2 separate regions of the Homo sapiens genome follow, and region 2 is linked to region 1. Evidence: fine-mapped expression QTL. Tissue or cell type: lung. Region 1 holds a variant in brackets; the other region holds the start of a gene. All regions are shown on one strand. Distances are between the middles of the regions.

What was found. PIP is the estimated chance that this variant, and not a neighbour inherited with it, causes the effect.
Region 2: MAP3K6 starts here. The variant in region 1 is fine-mapped to the expression of MAP3K6 in lung (TOPMed, PIP 0.97).

What each region holds. Positions count from the first base shown.
Region 1 is chr1:27,548,170-27,556,269 of GRCh38, reverse strand. AHDC1 (AT-hook DNA binding motif containing 1) reads left to right here. Exons shown (of 9, transcript NM_001371928.1): 6 at 3,085-3,196; 7 at 3,341-3,378; 8 at 4,081-8,100. The coding sequence starts at 4,155. Among named protein-coding and RNA genes, the nearest start is that of AHDC1, 52 kb to the left of the region's middle. RefSeq lists an enhancer at 300-855. The variant G/A (reference allele first, on the strand shown) is at 3,685.
Region 2 is chr1:27,362,936-27,371,035 of GRCh38, reverse strand. MAP3K6 (mitogen-activated protein kinase kinase kinase 6) reads left to right here and starts at 4,075. Exons shown (of 29, transcript NM_004672.5): 1 at 4,075-4,778; 2 at 6,124-6,263; 3 at 6,352-6,375; 4 at 6,642-6,832; 5 at 6,951-7,119; 6 at 7,488-7,594; 7 at 8,015-8,100. The coding sequence starts at 4,439. It overlaps FCN3 (ficolin 3), which reads left to right. Exons shown (of 8, transcript NM_003665.4): 6 at 64-193; 7 at 306-440; 8 at 1,559-1,926. The coding sequence ends at 1,800. RefSeq lists enhancers at 3,209-4,150, 4,151-5,094 and silencers at 4,347-4,456, 4,487-4,706, 4,777-4,826, 5,417-5,486.

The DNA.
Region 1 (8,100 bases):
GCAGCCTGGCTCCCCTGGGGAGGCAGTGGGTGGGGGAGGGGAAGGAGGGCTGGGGAAGGGGTGGGGTGGTCACAGCCACAGCCGGGGAGGGTGGGGCTGGGGACTCAAGGATGTGGGCTGGCGCTTCCCGGCACTGTGCACAGCAGGTTGGGGCCCCCAGCCCCCTCCCAACCAGCTGGTGTCCCTATGGGCAAGCTCAGACACACTGACCCAACAGCAGACAGGCAGACAGAAGTACCCCTTTGACTTTGTCCACAGACCAGGGCTAGGTGGTACCCTTGGGAGGGGTCCAAGAGAATGGCCGCCGGGGTGTGGTGAGGAGGGGAGCCAGCTGTTTCCCTCAGATCCTGGAGGCTGCAAAAGAGAGCAGTGGCCAGCCTCAGGAGGCCTGGCAGGAGGACGTGCCCAGAGGTCTTCACGGGTGGGTTGAACAGAAGCCACCACCGGAGAGGAGGTTTTTCTCTTCTGCCAAGATCACACCCTCAGGCCCCAGCTGGGAGGTCTCCAGGGCGGGGAAGGCTCGGCTAGCCTGACCCTCAGTAAGGGAGGGAGGGAGGGGGCTTCTGGTGGGCATCTCCAAGTGGGTGCCAGGAGCCACGGCCCAACCACACTGTTGGAAATTGGACTTGGAGGTTCCAGAGTCTGAGCCCCTTTTCTCGTTTGTGAGGGTGTCACCCACTGTCCTCCCTGTGAGGGCAACAGTGCTCCAAGTTCTTGGACTAGAGAGATCCTGACCTGGGAGGGGCCAGGTCCACAGCCAGGCCTGGGAGAGAGCAAAGTAGGTGGGACCAGTAGGTGGGACAACGAGGAGCAGCTGAGTCCTGGAGCCTGCAGAGAGAGAAGGAACAGTGGATAGAGGGATGTTCCACCTGGGTGGGCAACCAAAGGGCCCCTTCCTGTGCCATTTTGTGACCTCGGACAAAGTCTCTTTCCCTCTTCAAGTCTCAGTTTCCTCATCTGTAAAATGGGAGGGGCATGAGATGGCACTAGAAAGTGTCCCCACTGGGGTAGCTGGTTAAAAATACAGATTCCCAGATGTCCCTTCACATCTATGAGTCACATTCCCCTGGACTAGGGCCTGGGTATCTGGAATGTTACACAGCTCCCCCAGGCCCAGGCTTTGGAAGCCAATGGGTTAGATAATTTTAAGGTTCCTCCCAGCCTTAAATTAGACCACGGCGCTAGAAGGAGCATTTTCAGAAGTGGCTGAAGGATTGTTACAGGAGCTGGGAGTGGAAGGAGGCTTTGGACTTAAGGCAGAATTAGAAATCCTGCCTCTTAGCAGCTATGTGACTTCAGGCAAGTTACACATACACTCTGAGCCAGTTTCCCCTGTAACATGGGGATAATAAATCATGCCTCCCAGGCTGCTGTGAGGATTCAGTGGGTCACAGATGTGTAGGTGCTTTGTAGATTGCAAATCGCTGTCCCCCAAAGGGGAGTAGAGAAGTGTCTCTTTCTACTTTATCCTGTCCCCGAGTCAGCTCTGCAGTCTTCCTGTGGGGTGACAGCATGGGTAGGTGGGGAGAATCTACATGGGTCTGTGGCACATAGGTCCCAGGGATCCAGTACTAGGTCAGAGCCAAACATTAGGCAGTGAACAAGGTCAGTCTTTAAGACCCTCACAGTGTTGGGGTCCATTCAGCTCCCTGCTCCCTGAGATCCCGGCTCCTGGGATCAGCCATGGCCCTGAGTCCTCAGGCTTCTTTGGGAGTCAGACATGCCTGGATCTAAATCCCAGCTCTGCCCTGACCAGCTCAGGGAGTCAGTCGGTAAATATTTATGTAGCATTCATAGCCCAGGCCCCAGGGTCAGGTGATACAGCGATAAACAAGACAGATGTGATCCCTGCTCCTGAAGAGCCCACACTCTTGTGGGGGACACACTAAACAGCCAGTCACGCAAGTAATTGATTATAGTTGCAATGAATACTATGAAGGTGAAATACATAGGGCTCTGAGAGGATGTAGCAGGGGCCAGGACAAGGCCAGAGGTAGGATGGAGCAGCAGAGTTTTTCCGATGAAGGTGGAAGAAGGATCAGAGAATGTCCCTTTTCACATTCTTAGGTCCCTCTCTCAGCATCCTTCTTGGGTCTGGAGAAGAAGAAAGAGCCTCAAGGGAAAAGGCAGGGTTGATTGCTTTGCGTACCTCATTTGTGTGCGTTCATTCATGCAACAAACTTTTTTAATTTAATGTTTTGGAGAAAGGATCTCACTCTGCTGCCCAGGCTGGAGAACAATGGCACGATCATAGCTCAGAGCAGCCAGCCTCAACCTCCTGGGCTCAAGTGATCCTCCCACCTCAGCCTCTTGAGTAGCTGGGACTACAGGTGTGCACCACCATGCCCAGCTAATTTTTAAATTTTTGTAGGGACGAGGTCACGCTATGTTACCCAGGCTGGTCTCGAACTCCTGGACTCAAGCGATCCTCCTGCCTCAGCCTCCCAAAGTGCTGGGATTACAGGTGTGAGCCCCTGCGCCTGGCCAAACAGCTGTTTTTTTTTAAGCGCTGCTGTAGGCCATGTGCTGTTCTGAGTGTTGGGAAATACATATAGTGGTGAATAGGACAGATATCCTTGCTTTTATGGTGTTTACCATCTTCCAGGGGGTAGTTTCTGTAAGACTGGGGAGGATAATCATATTGATCTCATGTTTGTCTGGGGAATTTGATGAGATAATCTATATAAAGTGCTTGGCCCAGTGTTTGGCAACAGAAAATGTCCCCAAACTATGGGCTTTTATTGTTGACTCCCGGTGTGATTGCTCTGACCTCAGGCATCTTCACTTTTTCTTTGCAGCTCTTATCCCACTAGTAATTAAGTCATTTATAATGATCTGATCAGTGTCTGTCTGTCCAGTCCTTGTCCAAAGTAGGTACTTTATAACTAATGAGTGTATGAATGAATGATGTTACTTTTATCTCTGAGCCTCCATTTCTTCATCTGCAAAATGGGGTTATTAATAGCCCCTACCTCACAGGATTGGTATGAAGAATTAAATGAAACGATGCCTGGACAGCTTCCAGCCCAGTACCTGGCGCGCAGTAGGTGCTCACTAAACCTGAGCTGCGATGGTCCTTTCCAGGCGCTGTCCACGCCCCGAGGCCTGGGCTCAGGCCGAAGTTGCTCCACAGCACCCCCAGCTGACAGCCAGCGACTGGCAGAGCCCCCAGGCACGGGGGCCCTCTCTCTTCCAGGTCAGCCGGGTGTCTGCGCTGGACAGAGCGCTGAGGGAGCCGGGGGTGGTACCTGGAGGAGGCTGGGCCGGTGGGCAGGGGTTGAGCTGTGGCCACCAGACCATTTGGGGAATTCAGATCTATTGCCCGTCTTGTTGCCCACAGAGATCTCCAGTGTGACAGCCCAGGCGGCAGAGCCGAGGGTGAGTGGTGGGGGTTCTCCTGGAGCCCTTTCGGGGTAAGAAGGAGGGAGGCCGTGCCCTTGTTAGAACTTCCTGGCCTTCTCCTTAAGTTTGATCACCCTGCTGATGTGCTTCCCTCTCAAAGGCAGGGGTCCTGTTCTTCCTGAGTGCATAGCCAGATTCCCAAAGGGGATGAGCTGTCAATAAGTGAAACTGGGCCGGGCATGGTGGCTCACGCCTGTAATCCCAGTATTTTGGGAGGCTGAGGCAAGTGGATCATCTGAGGTCAGGAGCTCCAGACCAGCCTGGCCAACTTGGTGAAACCCC[G/A]TCTCTACTAAAATACAAAAATTAGCCAGGTGTGGTGGCGCATGCCTGTAATCCCAGGTGCTTGGGAGGCTGACACCTGAGAATCGCTTGCACTAGGAGGCGGAGGTTGCAGTGAGCTGAGATCACGCTGCTTCACTCTAGCCTGGGCGACAGAGTGAGACTCTCTTCCAAAAAAAAAAAAAAAAGTGAAACTGGGCCCATGAGGGGCTCACTATACACATGGTGGTTTGAGAAAGGCTGGGAGTCAGCAAGGGGATGGGGCTTGGGGTGGGGAGGGGAGCTTGGTAAGGAGATGAGACCTCAGGAGGGAGGGGTCCAGGAGCTCATCAAGGATATGGGAAGCTGATGAGGATGTAGGTGTTCAGTAAGGGACCTCCTGCTCTTCCTGCCTGGCAGGTCCTGGTCCCGGCTTCTCGCACCCTCATGTCAGCCCCGGCCCCGCCCGGCGGCCTGCGGAGGACAAGGTCAGGATGCGTGTGAAGCCCCAGGGCCTGGTGGTGACTTCCAGTGCCGTGTGCAGCTCTCCTGACTACCTCCGGGAACCCAAGTACTACCCCGGCGGCCCCCCCACCCCCCGGCCCCTGCTTCCCACCCGGCCCCCTGCCAGCCCACCTGACAAGGCCTTCTCCACCCACGCCTTCTCCGAGAACCCACGCCCACCCCCACGCCGGGACCCCAGCACCCGGCGCCCACCAGTCCTTGCCAAGGGGGACGACCCGCTGCCCCCACGGGCAGCCCGTCCTGTCTCACAGGCCCGCTGCCCCACACCGGTCGGAGACGGCAGCAGCTCCCGACGCTGCTGGGACAACGGGCGGGTGAACCTGCGACCAGTGGTGCAGCTGATTGACATCATGAAGGACCTGACACGCCTCTCCCAGGACCTGCAGCACAGTGGTGTACACCTGGACTGTGGTGGGCTCCGACTGAGCCGCCCGCCTGCACCGCCACCCGGCGACCTACAGTACAGCTTCTTCTCCTCACCCAGTTTGGCCAACAGCATCCGTAGCCCTGAGGAGCGGGCCACCCCACACGCCAAGTCGGAGCGGCCCAGCCATCCCCTCTACGAGCCTGAGCCTGAGCCTAGGGACAGTCCCCAGCCTGGCCAAGGCCATAGTCCCGGAGCCACGGCTGCGGCCACGGGTCTGCCCCCAGAGCCTGAGCCAGACAGCACTGATTACTCAGAACTTGCTGACGCCGACATCCTTAGTGAGCTGGCCTCCCTCACTTGCCCAGAGGCCCAGCTGCTAGAGGCCCAGGCCCTCGAGCCACCATCGCCCGAGCCGGAGCCTCAGCTCCTGGACCCCCAGCCCCGCTTCCTGGACCCGCAGGCACTAGAGCCGCTCGGGGAAGCTCTGGAGCTGCCACCCCTGCAACCTCTTGCTGATCCTCTGGGGCTGCCGGGCCTGGCTCTCCAGGCCCTGGACACCCTGCCTGACTCCTTGGAGTCGCAGCTGCTTGACCCCCAGGCACTCGACCCCCTGCCCAAGCTGCTTGACGTCCCAGGTCGCCGTCTGGAGCCCCAGCAGCCCCTGGGGCACTGCCCACTGGCCGAGCCCTTGCGCCTGGACTTGTGCTCACCGCACGGCCCCCCCGGGCCTGAGGGTCACCCCAAGTACGCCTTGCGGCGCACTGATAGGCCAAAGATCCTGTGTCGCCGGCGGAAAGCCGGACGGGGACGCAAGGCAGACGCCGGACCCGAGGGCCGCCTACTGCCCCTGCCTATGCCCACGGGGCTGGTGGCTGCCCTGGCCGAACCCCCACCACCACCGCCTCCTCCACCCCCTGCCCTGCCAGGCCCAGGCCCGGTCTCAGTCCCAGAGTTGAAGCCGGAATCTTCCCAGACCCCAGTGGTCTCTACCCGCAAAGGCAAGTGCCGGGGCGTGCGGCGCATGGTGGTGAAGATGGCCAAGATCCCCGTATCGCTGGGGCGGCGGAACAAGACCACATACAAAGTGTCTTCCTTGAGCAGCAGCCTGAGCGTGGAGGGCAAGGAGCTGGGCCTGCGCGTGTCGGCTGAGCCCACCCCGCTGCTGAAGATGAAGAACAATGGGCGGAACGTGGTAGTGGTCTTCCCACCCGGTGAGATGCCCATTATTCTCAAACGTAAGCGCGGCCGCCCTCCTAAGAACCTGCTGCTGGGTCCCGGCAAGCCCAAGGAGCCAGCTGTGGTGGCGGCCGAGGCAGCCACTGTGGCAGCGGCCACCATGGCCATGCCAGAGGTAAAAAAACGACGGCGGCGGAAGCAGAAGCTGGCATCTCCCCAGCCATCCTATGCAGCAGACGCCAACGACAGCAAGGCCGAGTACTCAGACGTCCTGGCCAAGCTGGCCTTCCTGAACCGCCAGAGCCAGTGCGCTGGACGGTGCTCACCGCCCCGCTGCTGGACACCCAGTGAGCCGGAGTCGGTGCACCAGGCCCCCGACACCCAGAGCATCTCCCACTTCCTGCATCGTGTGCAGGGCTTCCGGCGGCGTGGGGGCAAAGCAGGCGGTTTTGGTGGCCGGGGTGGGGGCCATGCGGCCAAGTCAGCCCGATGCTCCTTCAGTGACTTCTTTGAGGGCATCGGCAAGAAAAAGAAGGTGGTGGCCGTGGCAGCCGCTGGGGTCGGGGGCCCGGGCCTTACTGAGTTGGGGCACCCACGCAAACGGGGCCGGGGGGAGGTAGACGCTGTGACTGGGAAGCCAAAGCGCAAGAGACGGTCCCGGAAGAATGGGACTCTGTTCCCAGAGCAGGTGCCCAGTGGCCCAGGCTTTGGGGAGGCAGGTGCTGAGTGGGCCGGGGATAAGGGTGGTGGCTGGGCCCCTCACCATGGGCACCCAGGCGGACAAGCTGGCCGAAACTGTGGGTTTCAGGGGACCGAGGCCCGGGCCTTTGCCTCCACTGGGCTGGAGAGTGGAGCCTCAGGCCGTGGCAGCTACTACAGCACGGGTGCACCCTCAGGCCAGACCGAGCTCAGCCAGGAGCGCCAAAACCTCTTCACCGGCTACTTTCGCTCGCTGCTCGATTCGGATGACTCCTCCGATCTCTTGGACTTTGCCCTCTCAGCCTCTCGCCCAGAGTCCCGGAAGGCATCGGGCACCTATGCAGGGCCACCCACCAGTGCCCTGCCTGCCCAGCGGGGCCTGGCCACCTTCCCTAGCCGGGGAGCCAAGGCCAGCCCAGTGGCAGTGGGTAGCAGCGGGGCTGGGGCGGACCCCTCCTTTCAGCCTGTCCTGTCCGCGCGCCAGACCTTCCCACCAGGACGAGCAGCAAGCTATGGGCTAACTCCAGCCGCTTCAGACTGCCGGGCAGCCGAGACCTTCCCCAAGCTGGTGCCCCCGCCCTCAGCCATGGCCCGCTCACCTACCACCCACCCGCCTGCCAACACCTACCTGCCCCAGTACGGCGGCTATGGGGCCGGACAAAGCGTATTCGCCCCAACTAAGCCCTTTACAGGCCAGGACTGCGCTAACAGCAAGGACTGCAGCTTCGCCTATGGCAGTGGCAACAGCCTCCCTGCCTCACCCAGCAGCGCCCACAGCGCCGGCTATGCCCCACCGCCTACCGGGGGCCCCTGCCTGCCACCAAGCAAGGCCTCCTTCTTCAGCAGCTCTGAGGGGGCCCCCTTCTCTGGTTCAGCCCCCACGCCCCTGCGCTGTGACAGCCGGGCCAGCACAGTCTCGCCCGGTGGCTACATGGTACCCAAGGGCACCACAGCCTCTGCCACCTCTGCAGCCTCTGCCGCCTCCTCCTCCTCCTCCTCCTTCCAGCCCTCGCCCGAGAACTGTCGGCAGTTTGCGGGGGCTTCTCAGTGGCCTTTCCGGCAGGGCTATGGAGGCCTGGACTGGGCCTCAGAGGCCTTTAGTCAGCTCTACAATCCCAGTTTTGACTGCCACGTCAGCGAGCCCAACGTGATCCTGGACATCTCCAACTACACACCGCAGAAGGTGAAGCAGCAGACGGCTGTGTCGGAGACCTTCTCTGAGTCATCCTCCGACAGCACCCAGTTCAATCAGCCGGTTGGTGGCGGGGGGTTTCGGCGTGCCAACAGCGAGGCCTCAAGTAGTGAGGGCCAGTCGAGCCTGTCCAGCCTGGAGAAACTGATGATGGACTGGAACGAGGCATCATCTGCCCCCGGCTACAACTGGAACCAGAGTGTCCTCTTTCAGAGTAGCTCCAAGCCGGGCCGTGGACGGCGGAAGAAGGTGGACCTGTTCGAGGCCTCACATCTGGGCTTCCCGACATCCGCCTCTGCCGCTGCCTCAGGCTACCCATCCAAACGGAGCACTGGGCCCCGGCAGCCGCGAGGTGGACGGGGCGGTGGGGCCTGCTCAGCCAAGAAGGAGCGGGGTGGCGCAGCGGCCAAAGCCAAGTTCATCCCCAAGCCACAGCCAGTCAACCCACTGTTCCAGGACAGTCCTGACCTCGGCCTGGACT
Region 2 (8,100 bases), 190 kb after region 1:
CCTGCACCCTCAGCTGCCAGTGCCCAGCCTGGAGTAATAGCTGCTGTGCCCCCCCTCCCCCAGGTGTTTCAGAGGCGCCAGGATGGTTCTGTGGATTTCTTCCGCTCTTGGTCCTCCTACAGAGCAGGTTTTGGGAACCAAGAGTCTGAATTCTGGCTGGGAAATGAGAATTTGCACCAGCTTACTCTCCAGGGTGAGTTCCCAGCAGGGTCCTGGAGTCTGGGGGTTACTGTCTGCCATCCTGAATCCCTGCCCCACCCCCAAGAACTGAGGATTCCTCCATCCCTGCCTCCCCTTCTTTCCAGGTAACTGGGAGCTGCGGGTAGAGCTGGAAGACTTTAATGGTAACCGTACTTTCGCCCACTATGCGACCTTCCGCCTCCTCGGTGAGGTAGACCACTACCAGCTGGCACTGGGCAAGTTCTCAGAGGGCACTGCAGGTGAGTGAGCCTAAGGGGAGCAGAGGAAGGAGGCTGGATCCTTTCCCAGTGCTGCCACTGCCCCCATGAATGACCCAGGGCAATCCTGTCTCCTCTGTGGGCCTTAGTTTCCGCATCTGAGAAATGGCAATCATGAAACAGGATGGTGCAACAGTGAAGAATTTGGGATCTGGAGGCAAACAGACCTGAGTTTGAATCCATCTCTGCCATTTAGTACTTATGTGACCTTGGGCAAGTCCTACCCCTCCACTGAGCCTCAGTTTCCTCCTCTATAAAATGGGCAGGGAGGCCGGGCACGGTGGCTCATGCCTGTAACCCTAGCACTCTGGGAGGCCGAGGCGGGCAGATAACTTGAGGTCAGGAGTTCAAACCCAACCTGGCCAACATGGTGAAACCCCGTCTCTACTAAAAATACAAAAAAATTAGCCGGGCGTGGTGGAGGGTGCCTGTAATCCCAGCTACTCGGGAGGCTGAGGCAGGAGAATCACTTAAATCTGGGAGGCAGAGGTTGCAGCGAGCCAAGAGAGTGTCACTGCACTCTAGCCTGGGCGACAGAGCGAGACTCCATCTCAGAAAAAAAAAAAAAGGCGGGGGGAGCGCAGGGAGGCAAGGAGGAAGTTTTGGGTGCCGCCTGAGGCTCTGTTGAGTGTTAGTGTTCTCTGCTTTGGAAGAGGAACCACGGAAGTCTTCTTTCAGAGAAACAGTGACTATTGGGGAGAGATTTAAAAGAGGGAAGTGGTTATGAGGGAGTGCCTCAGGGAACCACCTTTCCTGGCCAGGCACCTAAGAGGTTCCTCCCAGCTTTTCCTAGCAGAGTTGCTCAGACTGGATGGGAGCTGAGAGAAGACAAAGGAGCTAGAGGGGGGCCGGGGATTCTGGAGGGGGTAAGACAGGGGGAAAAGCTGGGAGCTTTGGAGCCAGACAGTCCCGAGTTCAAGTCCTGCCGCTGCTTCAACCAGCCGAGTAACCCTGCGCAAACAACCTGGCCCCTTGGTGTTGCTCGTGGGGCCTGATAAAATTCAACTCTTAGTTGCTCTGAGACTCCCATGGCATTATATCTCCAAAGGTGCCAGGCGTGGTGCTGGGCACCAAGGTGCTTTCCATCCCTTCCCTGCTAGGGGATTCCCTGAGCCTCCACAGTGGGAGGCCCTTTACCACCTATGACGCTGACCACGATTCAAGCAACAGCAACTGTGCAGTGATTGTCCACGGTGCCTGGTGGTATGCATCCTGTTACCGATCAAATCTCAATGGTCGCTATGCAGTGTCTGAGGCTGCCGCCCACAAATATGGCATTGACTGGGCCTCAGGCCGTGGTGTGGGCCACCCCTACCGCAGGGTTCGGATGATGCTTCGATAGGGCACTCTGGCAGCCAGTGCCCTTATCTCTCCTGTACAGCTTCCGGATCGTCAGCCACCTTGCCTTTGCCAACCACCTCTGCTTGCCTGTCCACATTTAAAAATAAAATCATTTTAGCCCTTTCAAGACTCTTCCAGTTACTGGGAAAAAACCCTAGAGGGCAGAGCAGGGACACAAGTTTCAGCTCCATTCAGGGAAGAATTTCCTTCCAGTCAGGAAGATGGAAAGGACAGCCTCTAAAGTAGTGAGGCTTCTGTCTCTGGAGGTGTGCAAGACAAGGCCAGAGGGGCATATAGTGGAAGGACTGGAGGAGATTCAAGCATCCATTGACAATTTCCTGAGGCTCTCTGGGTCCTGCAAGTGGATGGCTTTGTGGCAGGAATTGCACAATTGCACAGCTTTTTTGTTTGTTTGTTTGTTTGTTTGTTTTTGAGACGCAGTCTCGCTCTGTCGCCCAGGCTGGAGTGCAGTGGCACCATCCTGGCTCACTGCAAGCTCTGCCTCCCAGGTTCACGCCATTCTCCTGCCTCAGCCTCCCGAGTAGCTGGAACTACAGGCACCCGTTACCACGCCCGGCGAATTTTTTGTATTTTTAGTAGAGACGGGGTTTCATCATGTTAGCCAGGATGGTCTCAATCTCCTGACCTCATGATCTGCCCTCCTCGGCCTCCCAAAGTGCTGGGATTACAGGTGTGAGCCACTGCGCCCGGCCGCTTTTTTTTTTTTTTTTTTTTTGAGATGGAGTCTTGCTCTGTCGCCCTGCCCAGGCTGGAGTGCAATGAGCCAGAGGGGCATACAGTGGAAGGATTAGAGGAGATCCAAGCATCCATTGACAATTTCCCGAGGCCCTCTGGGTCCTGCAAGTGGATGGCTTTGTGGCAGGAATTGCACAATTGCATAGCTTTTTTTTTTTTTGAGATGGAGTCTTGCTCTGTCGCCCCGCCCAGGCTGGAGTGCAATGGCACGATCTCCACTCACCGCAACCTCCATCTCCCAGGTTCAAGTGATTCTCCTGCCTCAGCTCCCAAGTAGCTGGGATCACAGGCAGGTGCCACCACACCCAGCTACTTTTTTTTGTATTTTTAGTAGAGACGGGGTTTCACCATGTTGGCCAGGCTGGTCTCGAACTCCTGACCTCGTGATCCACTCATCTTGGCCTCCCAAAGTGGGATTACAGGCATGAGCCACCGCCCTGGCTGGGAATTGCACAGCTTTCTCAGCCTGTCGGTTGCCCATGCCTGTCCTTTGTAAGTTGTCTGTTTTCCACTCCAGCCTCTGTTGCAGGCCAAGTTCTCAAACTCTACCACTTCCTGCCTATCTCATTGGGTGTCAGTTCGAATCCAAGGTCAAACCAAGGAAGGTACCTTTTTCTTCCACAAGGCAACAGGGCAATGAAACAGCCATTGAGTAGCATTTAAGCAGTTTATTTGCCCAAAGCCACATTCTAGTAAGTGGCAGAATTAAATAGTTAAGAGTCTGACAGGCGGTCCTGGGTTTGCACCCTGCTGTCATGTGCTGAGTGATCCTGGACAAGTTATTCAACTTAAGTCCCCAGTTCTTGGTTTCAGGGTCCACTGAGGCTTCTACCAGGTTGCTGCCTCACTCATTAATTCACACAAGAAAGTTGGGGACTCTTGGGGATTTGAAGCTGAGAAGCTGCTGTAGTGCAAAGGGCTGGGGTTGACTCCTTCAAGGGGTGGCTAAAGAAATGTTTAGAGTTGTTTAGAGTAGGAAGTGCTTCTCAGGTCCCATGGCCACGTTCTGCCTAGAAGTCAAAGGTCAGCGGGGGTCCACAGCAGGTTGGGTCCTGGGGAAAGCAGCCCCCTAGTGACAGTTAAGGCTCAGATGCCAAGTCCCACTCCAGGACTGAAGGCTTTCGGGCAAGCGGCCTAGGGTGTAGGTTTCCCCCATCCCAGTCCCTCCCTGCCTGCGCTCACTGGGCCCGGGAGGACACCCATTGTTCATCATGCTCTGCGCACCCTGATGTCTCTAGAGAGCCATTCATTCAACAGATACCTGCAGAGCAGGGCCTGCATATCGAACCTTTTCCCTAGCCCTGGCCTCCTCACACATTTTATGTGCACTTGCTGTGAGCAGTCCACAGTCTTTGGCGTGCACAGGGGCACAGGCTGTTCCGGAAGCCGCCAGTCTCCAAAGTTCTGGCGGGAGAGAAGGGAGGGGAGAGGCTGAGTCTCAAGCCGCTAGGGAGCGGCTCTGCCCCAGGGCCGAGGGTGGAGCTTTCTGGGTCGGCCGGGAAAGGGCTGGGCTTAGCCTACAAGTGAAGGCAGGGCAGCGTTGGCGGGCGCTCCCTTGAGAAGTCCAGGTGGCGGGCACCTCCGAGCCGATTCCCAGGATCCCCCAAGTGGCTCTGAGCTGCCGATCACCGGATGCCCCAGATTCCTGGGACCCAATCCCGGATTTCAGAACCTCAGGACCTTGCAAGTCCGAGCTAGGATTTCTCCCTGGACTTTAGATTCCTGGAACGGGACGTCAGGCCGTATTCCGGATCCCTAGATCCCGTGGGAGATTCTCCGATTCCGAACGGATTCCAGATCCCAAGATTCCTGATCTGCCGGCCCAGGCTCCTGCCCCGCCCCCGGTTCCCAGTGCGCGGCGCCCCGCGCCTGAGCGCCCCCGCATGGCGGGGCCGTGTCCCCGGTCCGGGGCGGAGCGCGCCGGCAGCTGCTGGCAGGACCCGCTGGCCGTGGCGCTGAGCCGGGGCCGGCAGCTCGCGGCGCCCCCGGGCCGGGGCTGCGCGCGGAGCCGGCCGCTCAGCGTGGTCTACGTGCTGACCCGGGAGCCGCAGCCCGGGCTCGAGCCTCGGGAGGGAACCGAGGCGGAGCCGCTGCCCCTGCGCTGCCTGCGCGAGGCTTGCGCGCAGGTCCCCCGGCCGCGGCCGCCCCCGCAGCTGCGCAGCCTGCCCTTCGGGACGCTGGAGCTAGGCGACACCGCGGCTCTGGATGCCTTCTACAACGCGGGTGAGAGCGCTGGGGGCGGGGCCGGATCCGGGCGGGACTCAGGGTCCTGGGAGGGGACCAAGCCGGGCTCGAAGGCTCAAGGGAGGGGCCGAGAGGGGTACCGGGTCTAGGGGACTTAAAGTGAGCTAAAGCTGAAGGGCTTGGGACAGGGCCGTGAAAAAAGTGGGATTTAGGGGATCTGGGGCGCGGCCGGGCTCGGGACGAGACAGGGATCCGGGCGCGGCTCTAGGGCTCGAGGTTGGGGCTTAGGCACCCTTCAGTCGGAGCGGTGCCCAGCCAGCGGGGCAAGGATGGGGAGGGGCTTTGGAACTCTGGGGCGGGGCGGGGAGCGGCGCGGGGCTGTGGTGTCTCAGGGGTGGGGTTGGAGAACTCAGCCTCACCCTCAGGAGAATGTCACGCGGATCTCTTGAGGACAATTACTGGGAGAGGAGCTTGGACTTAGGGAAAGGGGCCGGGAGGCTGGAGTTCAGGAGTCCTAGCATACTATTTCCAAGGATCGGGCTAGGAGAGGCAAAAAGAGAAGCGAAGGGGCCCGACGGGACTGGATACTGGGTGAGGGAGCTTAGGTTAAGTGGCCTCAGCGGCCCAGAAAGAATGGGCGGGGAAGGGGCGGGGAAGTGGGCGGGAAAGGATGGCTCAGGGGCGGGGCCAGAAGGAGGCTATTCCCCCGCGAGTCACTCCTCCCTCCAGCCAGCCCGGATGCTCGGCCCCCATACTTACTTGCTTATGCTAGAGTCCAGTAGCTGTGCTTCCTGGATGTCCATGAAATCGTAGCCTAAAATGAAGGCTGACCCGACCACTCGGACACAAAGATACAATTATCGACAGACACAAATCGCATACATGTTGACTCATGCAGGCCCTAGCAGACGCTGTCACACACACAGATACAGTCAGACATAGTAAGCTATACATGTCACAGATATACACATACATACATTTAGGCACAGCGTTGTCTATGCACACTGATGGTAGCCCCTTTCAAGAGCCTGTGCTGAAGACCAAAGGGAGGGGACTTCTATGTTTGCGCAACTCCCACCTCCTAAATGGCCCGTAACAGACTCAACTGGTCCACAGCCTCCCTTCCCCCATGCCAGGTGCTCACAGGCTCTGAACCGTGGCCTGAGGGTCCCAACCCAGTGAGCCCAACTCCTCTCCTGCAACACTACAGAGATCAGTTCTGTGAAAGTGCCAGGGGAACCCTAAAAAGGGCCGACTGAAGCCCAAAGCAGAACCAGACCCTACTGGAGTCCCACAGCAAGGCAGGTCAAGCCAGGATGGACCCCGGCTCCTTCCCCATCAAGCTGGGCTTCAGGGATCAGCGCCACCCCCTCTGTGCCTGCAGATGTGGTGGTGCTGGAGGTGAGCAGCTCGCTGGTACAGCCCTCCCTGTTCTACCACCTTGGTGTGCGTGAGAGCTTCAGCATGACCAACAATGTGCTCCTCTGCTCCCAGGCCGACCTCCCTGACCTGCAGGCCCTGCGGGTAGGTGGCCTGGGGCTGGTGGAGGCAGGCACAGGGCTGGGGTAAGGCCTACACAGAACACCAGTATCTGACTGTCTGCCTCCTGCAGGAGGATGTTTTCCAGAAGAACTCGGTGAGCAGAATCCACCTCTCACTCAAAAGTGCCCTTTGACTTCCGCTATGACCTCTGACCTCCACTAATCCCCCTGGCCTCCTCAGTCACCTAACCCCCCACTGACATCCCAAGTATTCCTCTGTTTCCTGTTGCCTCCTCTCATGACGGGTGCCCCTTTCCTGCGATTCCAATTCCCACTGATGCTGACCTTTGATGCTCTCACTCCCCTTGTCTAGCCCTGTGCTGACCTCTGACCTCACTGATTCCTGCCTCCCTCCCACCAGGATTGCGTTGGCAGCTACACACTGATCCCCTATGTGGTGACGGCCACTGGTCGGGTGCTGTGTGGTGATGCAGGCCTTCTGCGGGGCCTGGCTGATGGGCTGGTACAGGCTGGAGTGGGGACCGAGGCCCTGCTCACTCCCCTGGTGGGCCGGCTTGCCCGCCTGCTGGAGGCCACACCCACAGACTCTTGGTAATGAAGGCCCCCAGGGAGGGTGCTCCAGGAGGGGGCTGGTGAGGGTATGGTGGGCTGGGGCTGAGGTACAGGCCCCACCATTCTCTCTCCCTGCCTCCCCTACCCTGGGCATCAGTGGCTATTTCCGGGAGACCATTCGGCGGGACATCCGGCAGGCGCGGGAGCGGTTCAGTGGGCCACAGCTGCGGCAGGAGCTGGCTCGCCTGCAGCGGAGACTGGACAGCGTGGAGCTGCTGAGCCCCGACATCATCATGAACTTGCTGCTCTCCTACCGCGATGTGCAGGTGCGTGGTGTTCAGAGAGGCAGTAGGGCAGCTGGCATTTGAGGTCAGACAAACCCAAGTTCAGTTCCTGGCTGGGCCACTTGCTCACTGGTGGCTTTGGGCAAATTATCCAATGTCTCTGAGTGTTGGCCTCCTTATTTGTTAGAGAGGATGAGCATGTCGCTGCCTCCTGGGGCAGTTGTGGGGTTGGGAACGCCCAGCATGGGGCATACAGTAGGTTCTCCCTGTGAGGTGTGTCCGCTGGGCCTGAGGGAGGCGTGCAGAAGATGGTGGCTGGGTGGGATGTCAGGAGTGGGACAGGACCCTGGCTCAAGGTTCCTTGGGGCCTGGAGGCCCATGATGCCAGTGCTTGCCGTTCCCTGATGCAGGACTACTCGGCCATCATTGAGCTGGTGGAGACGCTGCAGGCCTTGCCCACCTGTGATGTGGCCGAGCAGCATAATGTCTGCTTCCACTACACTTTTGCCCTCAACCGGTGAGTGGCAGAGCAAGGGTTAGGTCATAGCCACATAAAGGTTTCCGAAACCTAGGTCTCTGCGTGCAAAGCCATTGCTGTCTGGGATCACTGCTGTTCGGGGAATTTGCTGACCGGGGTCACTGATGTCAATAGGTCCCTGTTGTTCTGAGTTACTGCTGCCTGGGTCGGGGTGGGGGAGGTGGTGCTGCCTGTGGTATGGTCACCGCTGTCCAAGATCACTGCTCCTAAGAGTCATCGCATCTAGGAATCACTTCCATCTGAGGTCACTAGAGAGGTCAGTGCTGGCCAGGGTCATTATCATTTTGAGGTCATTATTGTCAGGCCCCTGGAAGGGTCCCTGCTGGTTCAGTGTCTAGAGGTCCCTGGACAGAGTAGGCCAGGGCCATCAGGGAGGGCCTGAGCCCATCTTTTCCCTAGGAGGAACAGGCCTGGGGACCGGGCGAAGGCCCTGTCTGTGCTGCTGCCGCTGGTACAGCTTGAGGGCTCTGTGGCGCCCGATCTGT